Regions from separate parts of the Homo sapiens genome. Here region 2 is linked to region 1. The links come from fine-mapping of genetic effects on gene expression. Tissue or cell type: whole blood. Region 1 holds a variant in brackets; the other region holds the start of a gene. All regions are shown on one strand. Distances are from middle to middle.

Evidence for each region. PIP is the estimated chance that this variant, and not a neighbour inherited with it, causes the effect.
Region 2: TMTC2 starts here. The variant in region 1 is fine-mapped to the expression of TMTC2 in whole blood (INTERVAL, PIP 0.96).

Annotation. Positions count from the first base shown.
Region 1 is chr12:82,912,282-82,922,583 of GRCh38, forward strand. The region is part of intron 3 of TMTC2 (transmembrane O-mannosyltransferase targeting cadherins 2); the gene reads left to right. Among named protein-coding and RNA genes, the nearest start is that of TMTC2, 230 kb to the left of the region's middle. The variant A/C (reference allele first, on the strand shown) is at 5,968.
Region 2 is chr12:82,682,445-82,690,444 of GRCh38, forward strand. TMTC2 (transmembrane O-mannosyltransferase targeting cadherins 2) reads left to right here and starts at 4,462. Exons shown (of 12, transcript NM_152588.3): 1 at 4,462-5,225. The coding sequence starts at 5,143. RefSeq lists silencers at 3,413-3,492, 4,343-4,442, 5,013-5,062, 5,423-5,482 and enhancers at 3,923-4,072, 4,093-4,302.

The sequences.
Region 1 (10,302 bases):
AGCATGGCGTTTTCTTCTTAAGATGCCTGGAATAGCAGAGGAAACTTACAGTCGTTTAATATTTGGGGCTCTGTGTAGGAACTTGGAAGTCATATCATAAAGAAATGTGATTTTTTTTCTGCTCTTCTTACCTCTCCTTGCTTAGGATAAGAGAGTAAATATCTCAACTTGTATTTCATGAGACTACCAGCAAAGACCACAAGGTCTAAGATATTTTGAAATGTTTTCCTTTTTCACCAAGTCAGTTGACTTAATCTCTTTGAGATTTGCAAACAAGTTTTGATGGTTTGCAGTACTGGTGTTGAGTAATCTGAATATTTTCCAAAGATGATGGCATCATGTTACCTTCACAATTGTGGTTAAGAATGAATGGTGGTTGGGTGCAGTGGTTCTCGCCTATAATTCTAGCACTTTAGGAGGCAGAGATGGGTGGATCACTTGAGCCCAGGAGTTTGAGACCTGCCTGGGCAACATGGTGAAACCCTGTCTCCACAAAAAATTCAAAAAATAGCTGAGTGTGGTGGTGCATACCTGTAGTTGCAGCTACTTGGGGGGCTGAGGTGGGAGGATCACCTGATCCTGGGGAGGTCGAAGCTGCAGTACGCTATGGTCACGCCACTGCACTCCAGCCTGGGTGACAGAGTTGAGACCTTGTCTGAAAAAAAAAAAAAAAAGAATGGGTGGTAATATTCATATTCATGTAAATATTTACAATAATTTTAAGTTAGAAAGGAGTTTCTGTGCTTGCATAATGAAAACATTAGTATATTACGATTACTGTACAAACCCATGTATTCTGCATTTTTCTTATCTCTAATCACAGTGATAAATTTAAAATTACTTTTTGTTCTTGAAATGCTATTATTTGGAAGCAACAGTACAGAATTTTAAAATTTCTTTTGCCATTACACTTTAGCACAATGATTTTGAGATAGTTTTTGAGGGCAGTTGATGAAGTCACTAAAGTCCTAATGCCATGCTTCTGTTCTCTGTGGTACCATTCCAGAAGCAAGAGGCTGTGCACTGCTTTGGGCAGAGGACCATCATACTTTGGTTTTGGCTTTTGCTGGTTCTCAGCTCATTCTCACATTGAGCCTGGAGCAGACATTTACTTTTGAGGTTTTAAGTTAAAAATTAGGGTTTAAAGAAGTATATCCTAAGACCCAGTTCTGATTATTTGAAAGGAAAATGTGGCTTCTCTATGAGTTTTAATCATCCTGACATGTCAATAATCTGACAAGATTATTTAAAACTCATGAATAGAATATATGGCTTTATATCTAAGACCACACATCTAGTCATATTTTTTAATTGGTAATATTCATTAATCACTGGTTTTGACATATTTCCTGATTTTTCCTCTATCTTACTTAACCCTCTGGGTACTAGCTTCTTTTTAATACATGGAAGTATAACTTTCTGAATTGTAGTTTCAAGACTTTTATATGTATAACAGCATTCTCTATTTCAATATCATGTTTTTCAGTTCATACAAAAATGGCTCATACTCAAGTACCGTTGTCCCTTGATATATGTGGAGGATTGGTTCCAAGACCACACACTTAAAAACAAATCCCTGCATACTCAATTCCCACAGTTGGCCCTGCAGAACCAGAATATAGGAAAAGTCAGTACTCTTTATACGTGGGTTTCAAATCCCACAAATACTGTATTTTCAGTCTGTGTTTGGTTGAAAAAAAAAATCCACATATAAGTAGAACCAGGCAGTTCAAACCTATGTTGTTCAAGGGTGACATGTATTTGCACAGTCTTCAGAATTCTTGTCTGCTTGTCCTGTACCAGCAAAGAAGGCAAAGAAAATTAACTTCCCATTCTTTTCTGTTGTTAAATCAACTGAAAGTACAGAAGAAATGCTTTAAAATGATACGTGCCCAAGATTTTTGCATATAGCAAAGATAATTGATATTTTATTTTAGAGATCTCAGTTATTTACAAATAATTGTCCTCATTAGCACATGTAAATATTTTTCTACTCACATAAATATTTTATTTGCATTTTTTACTCATCATTTCTTTTTTTTAAAAAAATTCTCTTTTCTCTAGTATTTACTTTTGCCCTGTTCAACACTAGCTACTGGATTGATCACAGTGAATGCCAAAAATTAACATATAGAAGTTAACACATGGAATATTCTCCCTGATGTACTATATTTGAGAGGTACTATATTTATAACTTATAAGCAGATTTTTAAAATAAGATGCAATCTTTAGGATTTTCATTATTTTTTAAATCTTAAAATTGACCTTTAGAGTATTCAATATTGCCTTTAGTTATGTTTTTGTTGCCCTGGATTTGGTTGGCAATGCGATTCTCAGTAGCATGAGCATAGATAATGAATAGGGCAGATTTACTATAAAAGTGTATATCGAATTGGTTATGCTTTTAGTATATAATAATCCATTAATGAAATATACCATCTCCATAATAATGTGCTTTCCAAGGAGTTACACATCTATGTTAATTTAATATGTGACTCAGAGTTTAGTTTAGGCAAGCATCATTACAACTCACTTATTTTTTTTTTTTTTTTTTTTTTTTTGAGACGGAGTTTCGCTCTTGTTGCCCAGGCTGGAGTGCAATAGTGCGATCTTGGCTCACTGCAACCTCTGCCTCCCAGGTTCAAGTGATTCTCCTTCCTCAGCCTCCTGAGTAGGTGGGATTACAGGCATGCACCACCACGCCCGGCTAATTTTGTATTTTTAGTATAGATGGTGTTTCTCCATGTTGGTCAGGCTGGTCTCGAACTCCTGACCTCAGGTGGTCTGCCCACCTCAGCCTCCCAAAGTGCTGGGATTACAGGCATGAGCCACTGTGCTCGGCCTTACAATTCTTTTACAGATGAGAAACTAAGAGAGGCAGGATGCTTAAGGAGCATGGTTAAAGATTCCAAACTTTGCAGTAAGGTAGATGTGGGTATTGATTATAACTCATTTATAGTGGTTATTGTTCCTCCTTATTAGTGTTATCATCTATAGAGTGAGTATAGCAATACCATCTTGTGGTTATGCATAGCATACCTAGCCCAGGGTTTGTCCCACATTACATATTTACTAAATTATTGCTTTTACTATGAAATAGGAAGTAGAAGAGTTAAGTAATTTACTTGGTTGTACCCAAATCTAACTGGTAACAGGGCTAGTACTACAACGTAGATTTCGGACATTTTGTTTTATGTTTCTGTATCAAAGTTCCTTTAGTGACTTATAGTAGGAAACTAACCTCGGGCCTCGGGCCATTAGGTGGCAGGAACATACCTGATGGCTGGATCCACTGTGAGATAAAACAGATGTGGTTTGGGCGATAAAATTAAAAAGGGAATTTAAGGGAGAAAATGGATTCTTTTTGTTCCCCCTGAAGTTGTTTGGAAATCGTAATTCTGTACAAGTCGTCTAAGAACTCTTGGTCTTTCTAAGGGTTCTTCATCTTTTATACCTGAACCAAACTCAAATGATCCCAATTGTGTTAGAAGCAAGCTGTAAGGGCTGCTTGGAGACAATTCTATTCCTGATACAAACTCAGAGGCAACTTGTACTCTTTGGGATTTACCATAAATCAAAAGGAACTGGTATTTTAATGGAAGACAAAATCTATCATTGTTAATAATCAAGACTGCGTACAGCAACTCAACGTCTGTCATCCCTGCTCTTTGGGAGGCCAAGGCAGGAGGATTGTTTGAGGCCAGAAGTTCCAGACCAGCTTGATCAACATAGAAAGACCCAGTATTTATGGAGAAAAAATTTAAAACAGAAAAATAATAATTAAAAAAGGTACTGGTTGGATGACTGCATGGGCTATGCGATCAGCCATATATGAGGAATTTCTAAAAAGCCTTTACTGAATTGGTATAGTTGTTACATAAACAGGACCACTATTTATGACATTCTAGTATATATATTCCCCAAGTGTTCCATTAACTACTTTTGACAGTGTGATAGGCAAAATAGGTTTGTTGCCTGTGATTTGAGGAGAGCCTCAAGGCTTGTTGCTCCCAAATTCTCTCCCTTTGGCCAGTCATTATATTTGAAAATGCAGTTATATTAATTGTCTTTACTATAATACCATGTGCTAGTTTGTCAGAAACTGTGTAGAGCACATTGTTATTAGGGACATAGGGCAAAATTGAGAAGCCATGGGAAAAATTTTGCATAGAGAAGAAATGGATGGAAGACAAGTGCATGCAAACCCCAAAATAAAAATCGAACACTATGAGTGGTACTGGCAGCAGACCTGAGCCATGGATGTGAGGATGGCTCATAGTCAAATTCAGGAATATGGTAGAGATTGCAGATGGTAAAATGCCAAGGAACAACCGTAGATACACTAAAACAAAACGAACATGGGTGCTGGATTATACATGTGGATATTACAGTATGCACATAGATGTTATAGTGACAAATAATGCTGTCTAGACTAACAGTGTTAATATATTATTGAAGTACTAAATTTTATGTTTACATTAAAATTTTTTTCTTATTGGGAATACGTTTAGTTTCAGATCTATCTGAAATAACTACAGATAGGGGAAAGAGAAATAATTGTATCTTGTAGAATTCCTGTAATTAGAATTACATATAAGTACATAGGATATGTGTTGTGATAACATATGAATCATGATCTTTAAATCATAGCCACTTCTTCTACTTAATATTTTAACTATATCTGTTTTATTTACCTACTTACTATTATGTTCTTTTCTGTAATAATCCGAGGTATAATTTCTTCAGAAAAAATAAATTCCTGTAGGCTTACAAAGGCTCTTATTTCCCTGGAGTCACATGAAGTGACTATCATACAATTAGTAAAATGCTCAGTCTACAAGTGTTGACCCCGCCCCATAGTCTTTGCTAATAGATGGAGTGGGAAGACAGTCTACTTTAAAAAACAGCAACAACACATTCATGCTCGTTTTCAGTTCCATGCAGTTAAATGGCTCTTTTTCTCCTCCCTTTGTTTTCTTTTTTTCCTTTTTTTCTCTCTCCATTGACATTAGAAAGTTTAACATAATTAACATTTATATTTTAAAATAATATTTATTTAAATTGTAGCTGGTAAGACCATTCATGGGGCACATCCAAAGTCCAAGACTTCCATTATGGTTAAAGGCAAGGACTTTGGAACCAGACAGACACATCTTTTTGTTCTCTTATCTTTTTGAGTGTCACTTCTGTAAGGCATGGTTTCTTCTTCTATTAATAGTACAAACTGGATGATAATGTAAGCTCATTTGTTATGAGGATTAGGAGAGATCACATATGCATACACAAGTCTAGCTTAAAATTGGCTTTTATTTTATTTATTTATTTATTTATTTATTTAGAGACAGAGTCTCACTCTGTCACCCAGGCTGGAGTGCAGTGGTACCATTTCGTCTCACTGCAAGCTCCGCCTCCAGGGTTCATGCCATTCTCCTGCCTCAGCCTCCCCAGTAGCTGGGACTACAGGCCCCTGCCACCAGGCCCGGCTAATTTTTTTGTATTTTTAGTAGAGACAGGGTTTCACCGTGTTAGCCAGGATGGTCTTGATCTCCTGACCTCGTGATCCACCCGCCTTGGCCTCCCAAGTGCTGGGATTACAGGCGTGAGCCACTGCTCCCGGCCAGCTTTTATTTTTTTGAGACAGGGTCTCACTCTGTCACCCAGGCTAGAGTGCAGTGGTGCCATCACAAATCACTGTAGCCTTAACCTCCCAGGCTGAAGGCATTCTCCCACCTCAGCCTTGACCTCCTAGGCTCTAGCGATTCCCTCACCCCAGCCTACAGCATGCATCACCATGTCTGGCTAAGTTTTGTATTTATTGGGGTTTTACCCTGTTGCCCAGGCTGGTCTTGAACTCCTGGACTCAAGCAATCCGCCCAGCTTGGCCTCCCAAAGTACTAGATTATAGGTATGAGCCACTGCGCCTGGCCAAAATTGGCTTTTAATCTGAATAAAAACAATTCTTAGTAG[A/C]TATATTAAGCACTACTATATTAAGTGCAAATAAGTTATTTTCTTTTGCAGACGGTTTGTGATAGATGACTGGCAAGATTGCAATTTTTACCTCCTCATGGAAGTAACACTTTGATTTCAAACAAGTAACTCAGCGTTGGTGGAAGCAAAATTTAGGATTTATCCCCTTTTTAATGCAGTTAAGTACTTCAATTTTGGCAGATTCTTACATAGAACTCAAGATTTTCATATAGGGACAAAGACATATGTTAAATTTGTAAGGTTTAAAATGAATTATAGCTGAAGCACGAAACAAGAATGAGAGTCCTTACCACATTTAGTGACTGTGCAGTGTATTAGTAAAATGAAAATGCTGAGATGATAACCCAAAGAGGAGTGATTACTTATGCAGACCTGAATGTTAAATAGGTAAAAATTAAATATTAAGAAATTCATTTATCTTTTTATTTTATCTTTTTTCTTTTCTTCTCTCTCTCTCTCTCTCTCTCTCTTTCTCTCCCTCTCTCTCTCTCTCTCTCCCTCTCTTTGAGACAGAGTCTTGCTCTGTTGCTCAGGCTGGAGTGCAGTGGTGCGATCTCGGCTCACTGCAACCTCCACCTCCCAGGTTCAAGTGATTCTTCTGCCTCAGCCTCCTGAGTAGCTGGGACTACAGGTGCCTGCCACCACGCCTGGCTAATTTTTGTATTTTCAGTAGAGATGGGGTTTCACCATGTTGGCCAGGCTGGTCTTGAGCTCCTGACCTTGTGATCCGACAGCCTTGGCTTCCCAGAGTGCTGGGATTACAGGCGTAAGCCACCACACCCAGCCTCTTTTTTAACAAAACAAAACAACACAAAGACATGTATTTGGCTCACAGTTTTAGAGACTGGGAAGTCCAAGAGTATTGTGCTGGCATCTGGCAAGGGTTGAACTGTAACAGAAGGCAAAAGAGAAAGAGAGCACATATGAGAGAAAAAGCATGAGGGGCTGGGCTTGCTTTTATAACAGTTCACTCTAGTGAAAACTGACCCACTCATGTATTAACATTAATGCATCCATGAGGGCTTCACCCTTGTGACCCAGTCACTTCTTATTAGGACCTACCTCCCAATGCAGTTACATTGGGAATTAAGTTTACAGCATGCTGAGTTTTCAGGGCACATGCAAACCATACATTTTGTACCAGGCACCCAAAATTTATGTCCTTCTTATAATGCAAAAATACATTCATTTCATCCCCAAAGTCCCAAAAGCCTTAACTTGTTTCCATCAACTCAAAAATCCAAAGTCCAGAGTCGTATCTAAATGAGATATGGGTGATGCTCAAGGCATGATCTGTATAGAGGCAAATTCCTTCCAGATGTGAGCCTGTAACATCAAAGCAAGTTATCTACTTCAAAAATACAACAGTGAAACAGGCATAGGGTAGGCATTCTCGTTCTAAAAGGGAGAAAGAGGAAAGAAGAAAAGAGTAACTAGTCCCTACTAAATCCATAACCCAGTAGGGAAAACAATACGAAGTCTTAAAACTGGAGAATAATCTCCTTTGTTTCCATGTCCCATATCCTGAGCACACTGATATAGGGGTTGGGCTCTCAAGACACTGAGAACTGCCACGCCCATGGCTTTGCTGGGCTCAGCCCACATTTCCGCTCTCTCAGACTGGCATCGTACACTGGTAGCTCTACAGTTCTGTGGTCTTCTGAGCCCTCCCATGGCAATATAGGCTTTTTCTAGCCTGATTCTCCAAATTTCCAACCTCCACCCGTTATGCAGTTCCAAAGCTGCTTCCATATTTTCAGGTGTTGTTATAGCAACAACCCTGCTCTAAGTATCAATTTTCTATATTAGTCTGTTTTCTGCTCTTCTAGCTATTTTTTCAAAGAGCAGTGTATGCCAAATTATGAAAAACTCATTATAACTTCTTTTATAATTAATGAATATATATAATTTCTTCAAATTACTAACATAAGAAAAAATCTTAAAAAACTTTCTCAAATCTCCCTGTATTGATTTTGTGAAGTATATCAGAGATATGAAATTGCAATAGTTACTTCAGAGTAAGTTTGAATTTACTCTATAAACTTAAAACTACCATGTATTTGAAATTGGAACTTTGAAAAAATTTAGAGGTATTTATTGTAGCAGATCACAGCATTTCTAGAGGGACCTCACATTTGATTTTCTCTTTAGAACAACTTCAGCAAGATGGGAATATTTAATTGTTCTTCTGCCTTTCAAAGAACATCAAACCATGGCAGACTGTGGACTAAGTACAAGAGAAGCTTTCATTGTGAATTAACATCAAGTTTCTTAGTAAATGGATACCTTTTAGAGGTAGTTTAGTTTAATATCAATGTGAAGGGCCCTTGAGATATAAGAGTTATTCCTACTTCTTCACTTCTTGATTTTTTTTAGCAGAAGAATTTCTTTTTATTTTTGAATATAAAATAACTCCACAGATCATATTTTCTAGAGCTTATCCAGTGATATTTAGAAGTGTCTGTTTGCCTTCTCTTAATATACTAATTATATATGCTTAGTCTTAGGATTGAAGTTGCTTACTTATTAAACAATGCTTATTAAATCTCTGTCACATGTAAAGTATCTTCAGGGCACTAAGAAGAATGGATAAATATACCAAAGTTCCCAGCCGGCATCTTTGAGCAACAACCATTTGTTTACGTAGGCAGGATATGTTCAGTTCCAATATGTTAACAGGAAAATATGACATATAAAATTATATTCCCAAAGAAATGTAAAACATTTGATATACTACTTGGCATTAATTTTTCTCTGGTCTGAAAAATATATTATGAAATATGGATACCAGATAGTTTTATTTTGTTACTACTGAGGGTTTTTTTTTCCCCCTAGCAGTTCTGAGAGGATAACTCATTTGGATAATTTTGTTTTCATATTTATGCTATAGTCCCTAAATTAAAATTATTAAAACATATTAAGTACCATCTTATGATATTCTACCTTCTATTCAAACTCAATATTGAGAGGGTGAAATAGCCTTGCCTCTGACCACATTTGGATGCCTGGAAACATATCTGAATCTTCCTTGTTATTACATCTGCTACTTAGGAGGCTTAACCTCAGTTTTCTCATCTGTGAAATGAGGATAGTAATACTATAGACCCCAAATGTTTGTATTAGTTTAAATGAATTGAGGAGACTACCAAGGATGTAGTAATTGTTAAATAAATGTAAATACTATTATTGTTGTTATTTTTATTATAATTTTTAAAATTTCTTCTTCATCTCCTTCTCCCCTTCCCATTCTTTCGCTCTCTTTAGGCTGTCACAGTGCTGCAATGCAGGCCCTTGAGATGGAGCAGTAGCCCTTCCAAGTTAGAGCAGTTTCATATGAAGTTTATTTTGTTTAAAACAGGAATGAAATGAATACTCTGAATATTTGGAAACTTCATTGGGAAAAAACTTTTCAAAATTAGATTGGGATTTTGGAACAACAATTATATTTTTTGAACTTCAGATAAATGCTTTATTATATTATATCCAGGGTTGAAAGTGTGATTTGCATTCATCTATAGACATACTCTGTTAAAATGTGGACTTTTAGGCTGGGTGCAGTGACTCATTCCTGTAATCCCAGCACTTTGCAAGATCAAGGTGGGAGGATCGCTTGAGTTCAGGAGTTTTTGACCAGCCTGGGCAACATAGTGAGACCCACCTCTACAAAAATTAAAATTAAAAAAAAAAAAAGGCCAGTCATGGTGGTGCACATTTGTAGTCTCAGCTACTCGGGAGGCTGAGGTGGGAGGATTGCTTAAGCCCAAGAGGTTGAGGCTGCACTGAGCCATGATCATGCCACTGCACTCCAGCCTGGGCAACAGGAAAAAATAAATGTGGACTTTTAAAGCATTTGTAACTGTTATTTACACTTCATCACACTTCACTGAAAGAACTTGGAGAATTTTATTTCAATAAAATTGCACTTTTAAAAGATTATATGAAATGAATACACCAATAAAATATACAGGCTTAAACATGTAAAAAATGCACATTATATTAAATGTTAATGAAAATACAAAGTCTTTGAGTGGTCCAAAGAATAAGTACCAAAGTGAAAATTTGAAGATAATCCCAAACATCTGTTTTGAATTATCTTTCTAAAAAAAAGGTTAAGTGTATGTTAAAACCTTTTATTCCTTAAGTAGGATATAGCATAACTGCATCTCTATTTTAAAAGAAGATGATGTGTGACCTTAATTTTATTTTGTTTCCTTTCTTTTCCTACCTTCCTTTTCCTTCTCTTTCTCTTTTTTTTTCCCTTCACTGCAGTTTCAGGTTAATCCCTGTAAGCTTCCTCTATTTTATTCATGTATT
Region 2 (8,000 bases), 230 kb before region 1:
ACATGTGTTGCCAATGCATTTACAGTCATTAGTTAACCAAGCCGCCCATGTGCCTGTCTCAGCTCCCTGACCCACATTTCATCCATGCTCTGCTGTTTTTCTCCTGCAGGGTTATTTCCTGAGTAAATCCCAGAGCTTATGAGTCCCCCAGCAGAGAGCTCTGTTCTGACCTCCCTAAACAGGCAGTTTCACCTGCTGGGCTAGTGTTTTTCTGCTTCTTAGTCAATCTGTTAAAATTTTAGCAGGAGATACTTGGATACCTTTTCAGAAAACATATGGAAGATTGTAATTATTTTGGCCCAGTACAATTTTAGAATTGAGAGAGCAAGGAAGAGGCGCAAATCTCCTGCTCATAAATAACCAAATCTGTGGGCACTTTAAAAAGCATTCTGTGCAGCAAGAGAATTTACGTGCCACATTTCACCCTTGGCACACTTTCCAAATGAATTGTTCAAAGAGAAGTTATATTAGGACAAATAGAAATGACGACCAGGACCAGATGTGGATCTTTAGTTAATATTTATGCAACACCCAAAGGGAAGATAGTATTGCACAATAAACTAAAAATGTCTTAGGCAAATAAGGAAATCTTTACCCTGAGGAACTGGCACTGCAAAGGTATGAATTATACAACAAAGGACTGAGAATGCAGAACAAATGCAGGGTAGGTCGGGGCTACTATAAAAAGGAATTCATTGAGGAAGTGGTGAGGTAGCAGATGTGTGGAGCCTACTTCAGGAAAATAAGGGCTTAGCGCTTTTTTGGCCAGTATTGTGTCTAAGGTAGAAAATTCAAGCCAGCCATCCTAATTTCCTTCACCTGTGGAGAGCAACTGTCGCTTTAAATAGAACATACACATATTCAGAACTGATGCTGCAACCTTACATCAAATAAGTACACCTTGATAAACTAAAAACCTATGTCCTCAGATTTTAAATGATCTCCAACAATAATGATGACATCTTTAATCTGATTTTCCTCCTAAAGTTGTTCCAGGAAGGTAGAAAATTCAGGAATTGGCTGCTTCTCAGCCCTTGGAGAGCAATCTAAAAGAGACCATGGCTTAATGCTCTGGAAGGATATTGAAACCTACATTAAATTATAATAGAAAAATTTGTTAAAAGCAACTGGATTTCTCAAACACAGCTAGGTTTTCAGCCTTCTGTTTATCAGGGAAGGCAAGATGTGCCATTTTACAGCCCATCTCCCAGTCACCTAGGCTTCCAATTCAGAGGTATTGGGAGGTGGGGAAAGGAGAAAACGAGGAGATGGAGGAGTGTATAAAATTTATTTAAAACTATTGGAGCCATGGCTGGGCGCAGTGGCTCATGCCTATAATCCCAGCACTTTGGGAGGCCAAGGCAAGTGGATAACTTGAGGTCAGGAGTTCAAGACCAGCGTGGGCAACATGGTAAAACCCCCGTCTCTATTAAAAATACAAAAATTAGTCGGGCTTGATGGCACACACCTACAATCCCAGCTACTGGGGATGCTGAGGCAGGAGAATCGCTTGAGCCCGGGAGGCAGAGGTTGTAGTGAGCCAAGATCGGGCCACTGCACTCCAGCTTGGGCGACAGAGTGAGATTCTGTTTCAAAAAAAAAAAAAAATTAAAAATTAAATTAAACTATTGGAGCCTTAAAAATGAACACAGCTGTGGAAAAGGCTTACAAGCTTTTAGCATGTGGAACCCAAAGCTCTCTAATATTTTTACATATCTGAGTCCTCTTAATAACTGAAGAGACCTGTCCATGTGACTCCCCTTCACGGGTATTCCTGCAGACTTGATGTATTCTGAAAAACTGTGAACCTGCTCCCTTCCTCTCTCCTTGGTTAATACTTCACGATCTTTAACACTAACGACAAACAATAAATCAGCGATGAAAATTTTTGGATTTTCCAGCTGTTACGTAGTTTCTCCTAAGCACATTTATTTTGTTCATTTATTAACAATCTTTTTAAAGTTTCTTCTCCGTGTCCAGATGTTATAGGCTCTGGGTTTTATGTGGAAAAGAAGACTGACAGGATCCCTGACCTCATGGAGCTTCCACTCAGTGGTGCTTCCAGATACTAATACATACTATGAAGAAACTAATACATGGTGGTTGGATAGAGATTGATGGGGGAGAGCCTACTTTATTTCTGAGGTTATGCCATTTGAGCTAAGACCTGAATGGTGAGAAGGAGCTAGAGAAGGTTTGAGGAGAAGAACCTCATGCAGGAGGAAGAGAAAGTGGTTAGTTCCTGAGAAGGATGTCTGTGTTGTACACATATGAACACAACATGAAGCGGGAGGGGTAGTCTGGGCTAAATGAAGGCTTGGCTGGCCATGGTAAGAATTAGTTTTATTAGCTGTAAAACAGGAAGTTGTTGGACATTTAAAAATACAACAGGAAGTTGTGGAACATTTAAAAATTGGGAATGTATAGGTTTTCAAAGGAAACTTCTGCCTAAAGTTAAAATTGGGGAAGGGAGGCATTGCAGGGGTAGAAGTACGGGGACCACTTAGAGGGCTACTGCATTTGTCTATGCAGGAGATGAGGGCAGCTGGGCTGTGGACTCAAGTAGTAAAGATGTGATAGGATGTGTTTTGGAGGTAACTGTCCAGGTTTTTGTTAACAAGTAAAATGAAACGAGGAAGCTAGAAAGCATAGTAATAATGATATACTAGCTAATACTTCTGTAGCACTTTCCTGGTCCCTTTTAGATATTTTACATAGGTTAACTACTTTAATACTCATAATAACAGTACTCATAAGATAAGTACTATTATTATCACTGTTTCATAGATTAGAAAACAGAGTCACAAAGAGGTTGAACGACTGGCCAAAGATCGCCCAAATAGTAATAGCAGAGTATGCACTCAAACTTAAACATCTGATCCCACAGTATGTGTTCTTCCTTCAGTGTTCTAGGACACCATATACATATTTTATATATACTATATATATCTCAGCATGTAAGTGCATTGGAGAGACACAGAGCATCAGGATGGACTAACTGATATGATTTTCAAAATTTTCAAGTGAGCAAAGGTTATGGAGGAAAAGGGTAAAAGATCAGTCCCTACCTGTAAAGACATAATTCCTTTTATTTTTGTTTACATATATTTGTCCAGGGCACAAAAAATGTGCTACTGTGGATGGCATAACAGGTATAATATTAATAAATATTCATCATTTTATCTGTGTGTATCCAATACAGATTTCTCAGATTTCCTTGTGAAATCAGGGAAATATGTAGCTTTGTTCTACAGAAGCCCAGACCACGGTATTTTCTTTCCAGGCCACTGCTAGACACCCAGGGGGCTCAATTTCTTGCCACAGTTTCGGAGAGCTTGCTGGTTAGGTGCTGCTCTTGGTTGGAACCAGTCGGCCCGCATGCAAAACAGACCTGTCTTCCACACCTTGTGGTTACTATGCAGCAGGGGGCGCTGCAGTAGTGTACATCGCGGTGCACCGGAGCTACTCTCCTGGCCAGAAAGCCAACAAGCCGGGAGGAGGCGTGTCAGGCAGCCCTGGGTCCTCTTTGGTCTTGCAACTTTAGTACCCAGAGCTTGTTCTACACAGACCATTCTACACCATATTTCACCATGTTGGATGCTTTCCATCCAGTCCTGCCTCCGAGCGGAAAGGAAAGGGCATTAGCTTACTGCCTTACTAGGTTTAAGTATAATGCTGTACCGGCTTGCACTAGAGGTTTCTCTCCTGTGTTCTCAGGGTCAACCCGACAGTCCCTCTGAAACCACGAAGGGGTCCCCGGGCAGTTGCTGCGGGGTGTGTGTGTGTCTTTCTTTCCCTTTTTGGGGTCCTTTCTTTTTAACCTTACTGAAGGAGGAAACGTTTCTCTCCCTACACGTCTTTCCACTGACATTGTGGCCAACCGTAGGCTAAGAGCTGAAATCTCTCCTTCCTAAGTTGCCTCCAAGCTCTCCAATACTACCTCCTCCCCCCCATTTAGTCTCACACACAGTGTGCGTGAGAGATCGCCAGTGAGTTTGTGACAACCGAAGCTGCAGCAGTCGCCAAACCTGTTCTTCCTCTCCCGGTCTCAGAAGTCTCTCCAGCTGACCGGACTTACGCCTGGCAGCTCTTGGCACACACAGCGCTGTGGCTGAGATTCAGCCGTGCCAGGCGCTGCCAGGCAGCAGCGGGGCGACCGACCACCTCCTCCTCGACCTCCTTTCTCCCAGCTTCCCCTCCCAGGGTGCACTGTATCTACTCCTTTGGGCTGTCTTCCAGCCGTCGCCCTTGGGTCCCGGGGGCTTTCCAGAGTGAAATCGAAGGTGAAAGAAACAAGAGGACGGGAGGCTGGTAGGAGGAGCCTCCAGGCCGGGGAGGGTGGGAGGAGCCTCCAGCCCGAGGGGCAGGGTAGGAGGAGCCTTCCGGGAGGATCTGGGTGGAGAAAGGGGCTGGGCCAAGCCGGGATGGAGGGTTGGTCACGCAGGCGCGGGGGGCCGCGTCGAGAACCCCACGCGGGAGCTTCTGGAGTCTCCAGCCACCGCTTCTCACTTCACTGGAGAAGGGAGCTGGGGCTGGGGCTGGGGCTGGGGCTGGGAGGGAGCTAATAAACATTGAATGTGCAGCAGCTGCCTTGGCGGCCGGAGTCCGCCCGAGCGACACCGGAGCAGTGCGCCCGGGAGGCGGCGAGGGGAGGCGGTTCGCCTTGTCCCTCCCACCCGCGCCTCTTTCTCTCTCTTCCTCCAGCTGGTCCCAGAGCCCGGCTTGGTCCGGTCCCTCTGCCCCCATCCCGCACCCTTCCACCTCCTCCGAGTCCCACTCCTCACCTAGGACGCCCCAAACTGCCATGGGTTAGGGTGGGGATCGCGACCCGCGCGAAAGACCAGCCCTGCGCTTCCGCCGGGGGACGCGGAGCCCAAACGCCGCTCACCGCTTGCGGGCGCCGGGCATGGGGAGTGTGGTGTGAGCCCGCACCCGGGGAGGACGCAGGAGCTGCGGAGACGGGCGCGAGGAGGAGGAGAGGAGTCGTGGATTGGAAGGACCCGAGGGAGGGAGGGTGGGGAAGCGAGGGAAAAGTGAAGCTGGGAGGAGAAGGCGGCGGAAGGTGGAGATTGATGCTTCTGTTTTTTGTTGCCGCTGCTGCCCTCGCGCTGGGAGCCGAGCCGGAGGGAAGGCGGTGGAGAGATGATTGCAGAGTTGGTGAGCAGCGCTCTGGGGCTCGCCTTGTATCTCAACACCCTGAGTGCGGATTTCTGCTATGATGACAGGTAAGGGGCCGAGAGGAGGGGGCGACGGGCTGCAGGGGGCACACTCCGCAGTGGCTCTGAAGCTTCCCTCTTTAAGGCTCAAAGTGCGTCTTGGAGGAACTGGTTCAGCACCTGATGGTTTAGGCGACACGTAAACATTAACACCTAAATCAAACACCGGGGACGTGAGGCGCGCTGGGCGGGCCGAGGGAGTTTCCGCTCCTAGTTTGCAGCAGGTTCTCTCCCTTGCTTCTCGGCTGTTGGCAGACGCTTGAGTTTCTTAGCGGAAATCCCGGCAATTTGGGAAACTGTTTAATGAACGTATTAAATTAAAGTCTTAGGTATTCCTTGATGCAACAAAGCACATTAAGTGATTTTACGTCTGGTTGGGAGGAAGCCTCTCCTCGATCCCTGATAGATCCTCCCTGTCCCGTTTCCTTTTATTGATGGGACACTTTTATTTCCCGAAGTTAAAACACACGTTTGATAGTTGCCAAAATTGTGAAAAGGGAGATCGTTCTCTGCTTTAACTTTCCCTTTTAACGTGTATAGACTTTTACTTTGAGCCAAAATAATGCTGCTGATGGTCTCTCCCGCCGCCCTAGCCTCCTTCACCAATCCATTGGGCAGCACTTTATAAAAGCCTCGGCTTTCTCATTTCTGTTTGGGAGTTGTACATTAGATGTTAGTGGTTCTTTTGTACTAATTGGAGAAGAAGACGCCCCTAGAGACTGAAGTTGTCTTCTGCACTTAGGTTAGTTTGGGTGGCTAATGAGACCTGAACTGTGTTGTCAAAGAAACTGCATCGATTTCTGGAAAATGTCACCGTTGTGTTGGTGTCTCTTCCTATCTTTTAAACGTTATTAGTGTTCAGAAAGTGATGAAAAGCCCCTATATCCATTAGGGAAAATTCCAATTTGTGTCCTTCCGGTGTCTTAATCTGATTACAATTAAAACAGATGCATAATTAAAATATATTAGGGATAACAGCACGCCTGGCTAAACTTATTAACCGTCCTGGGGTGTTTCATGCTCCATTGAAATTAAACCATCCAAAAAGTGAGCACAGATTTACTTTGACAGCTTTTCAGCAGCCTCTCTGAGCTATGAAAAGTGAATGGATCCCCAGGGTTAGGGCGAGGCAGTGAGAGCACTTACGCAAAGTGGTTGACAGTGAGGGGAGGTGAAGGCAGAATCTTCTTCTCGTCGTAATTAGCCACATTCTGTATTCTCTGGTGTGCCCATTCTCCTGCTAAAAGCATCTTCACATCTCTGTTAAAAAATCACCTGATAATAGGTGCCAGAACATCCAGCAAACCCGTCTTAATGCATTTTATGTAGTGCCTACCAGAGGCTAGTTGATAGGGAACCACTGTTAGACATACATTTTTTCTTAACTTTTACGCAGCATACTGATTTTAGCAACTACACAGCATGCTCTGAGAAATGGTCTGTAGGAGTGAGGTAAATTTCTGTTCTCTCCAATTTTGTGTAATGGTGCACCTGCTATTTCTAGCATATTCGTGGAAAAAGCCCTTGTTTCCAAAGATGGGTGACTTTTCACTAAAACCAGCTTGGGTCAGTGTGGGCAGTTACTGGCTCTGTTGGGGGCGGTTTGAATAGTAAGCATTTAAACCAAGAATATAGAGTTTATTTAAAAAAAGAAACTTACTATAATAATGCAACTTGATGGGTGACTTTTCACTAAAACCACCTTGGGTCAGTGTGGGCAGTTACTGGCTCTTGGGGGCAGTTTGAATAGTAAGCATTTAAACCAAGAATATAGAGTTTATTTAAAAAAAGAAACTTATTATAATAATGCAACTTGTTATAGAACACGGTGGTGAATCAAGTATTCCTATTGTATGCCCTTGTTCATTGCTGTCTAATCCTTAAGAAAATACACATCAGAAGAAGCCATTCTTTAAAAATTAAGGTTAAATTTGGATATGCATTTTTCTATAGGTATAATTGTTCTGTGCTCTTGAGTCATCAGAAGTGTTAGGACTGGACCTTGTAACTTGGAAGAATGGTGTGAGTGTGATGATAAATTAGTTGTGCTTTGATGGTTGGCAGTTGTAAGTTTTTCAGATGCAATAGTCTAATGGAGTGTTAAAATTCGTGACTTCTATCTTGTAGCTACATAGGTGAATATAGTATGATTATTTGCCCATATGATTTTATTGATAGCATGCTCAATATGATGTCTAGATAGTATATATTGATAAAATATTGAGGGCCTGTAACTGTGAATTATACTTTGCTACAATTTGAAAAGTGTATTTTACACTGATTTCTTAGCAGAACTACATATGCCATCACATATTCTTAGAATGTGAAATCTTAAGAGCAGCAAACTTTGTTTTTATGTATCCTAGAAATTATGAGACACATAAATAGGAGCACTGAACTTATTTGTTGTATGCACAGCCTGTTCAAGTGATTCATTGTGAAGTTACACTATAAATTGTGGCTTTTCTGATATATTTTCTATCTAACTACTGTAACTCACTGGTGTGTGAAGGGGGAGGAAAGCTGGGGAGCCAAGTGTAAACTGTAGGATGATGATAATTTGTTTATTTCCGCTACTACATTTCAGATGCAAAGATTCATGTTTAAAACATTGCTTAAACTAGACCTGTGGATTCTGCTGCCCTCCAGGAACTTTTGTGAAATCCAGTTCTGTAAGGAGAGGCCAGTGCCAGAAGTGAAGGGAGAAGCACTCAAGGGAGATGGCTGTTATTCCTGACTTGCTTAACTAAATCATTATTGCTGTGGTACTTCTCAAGGTTATCA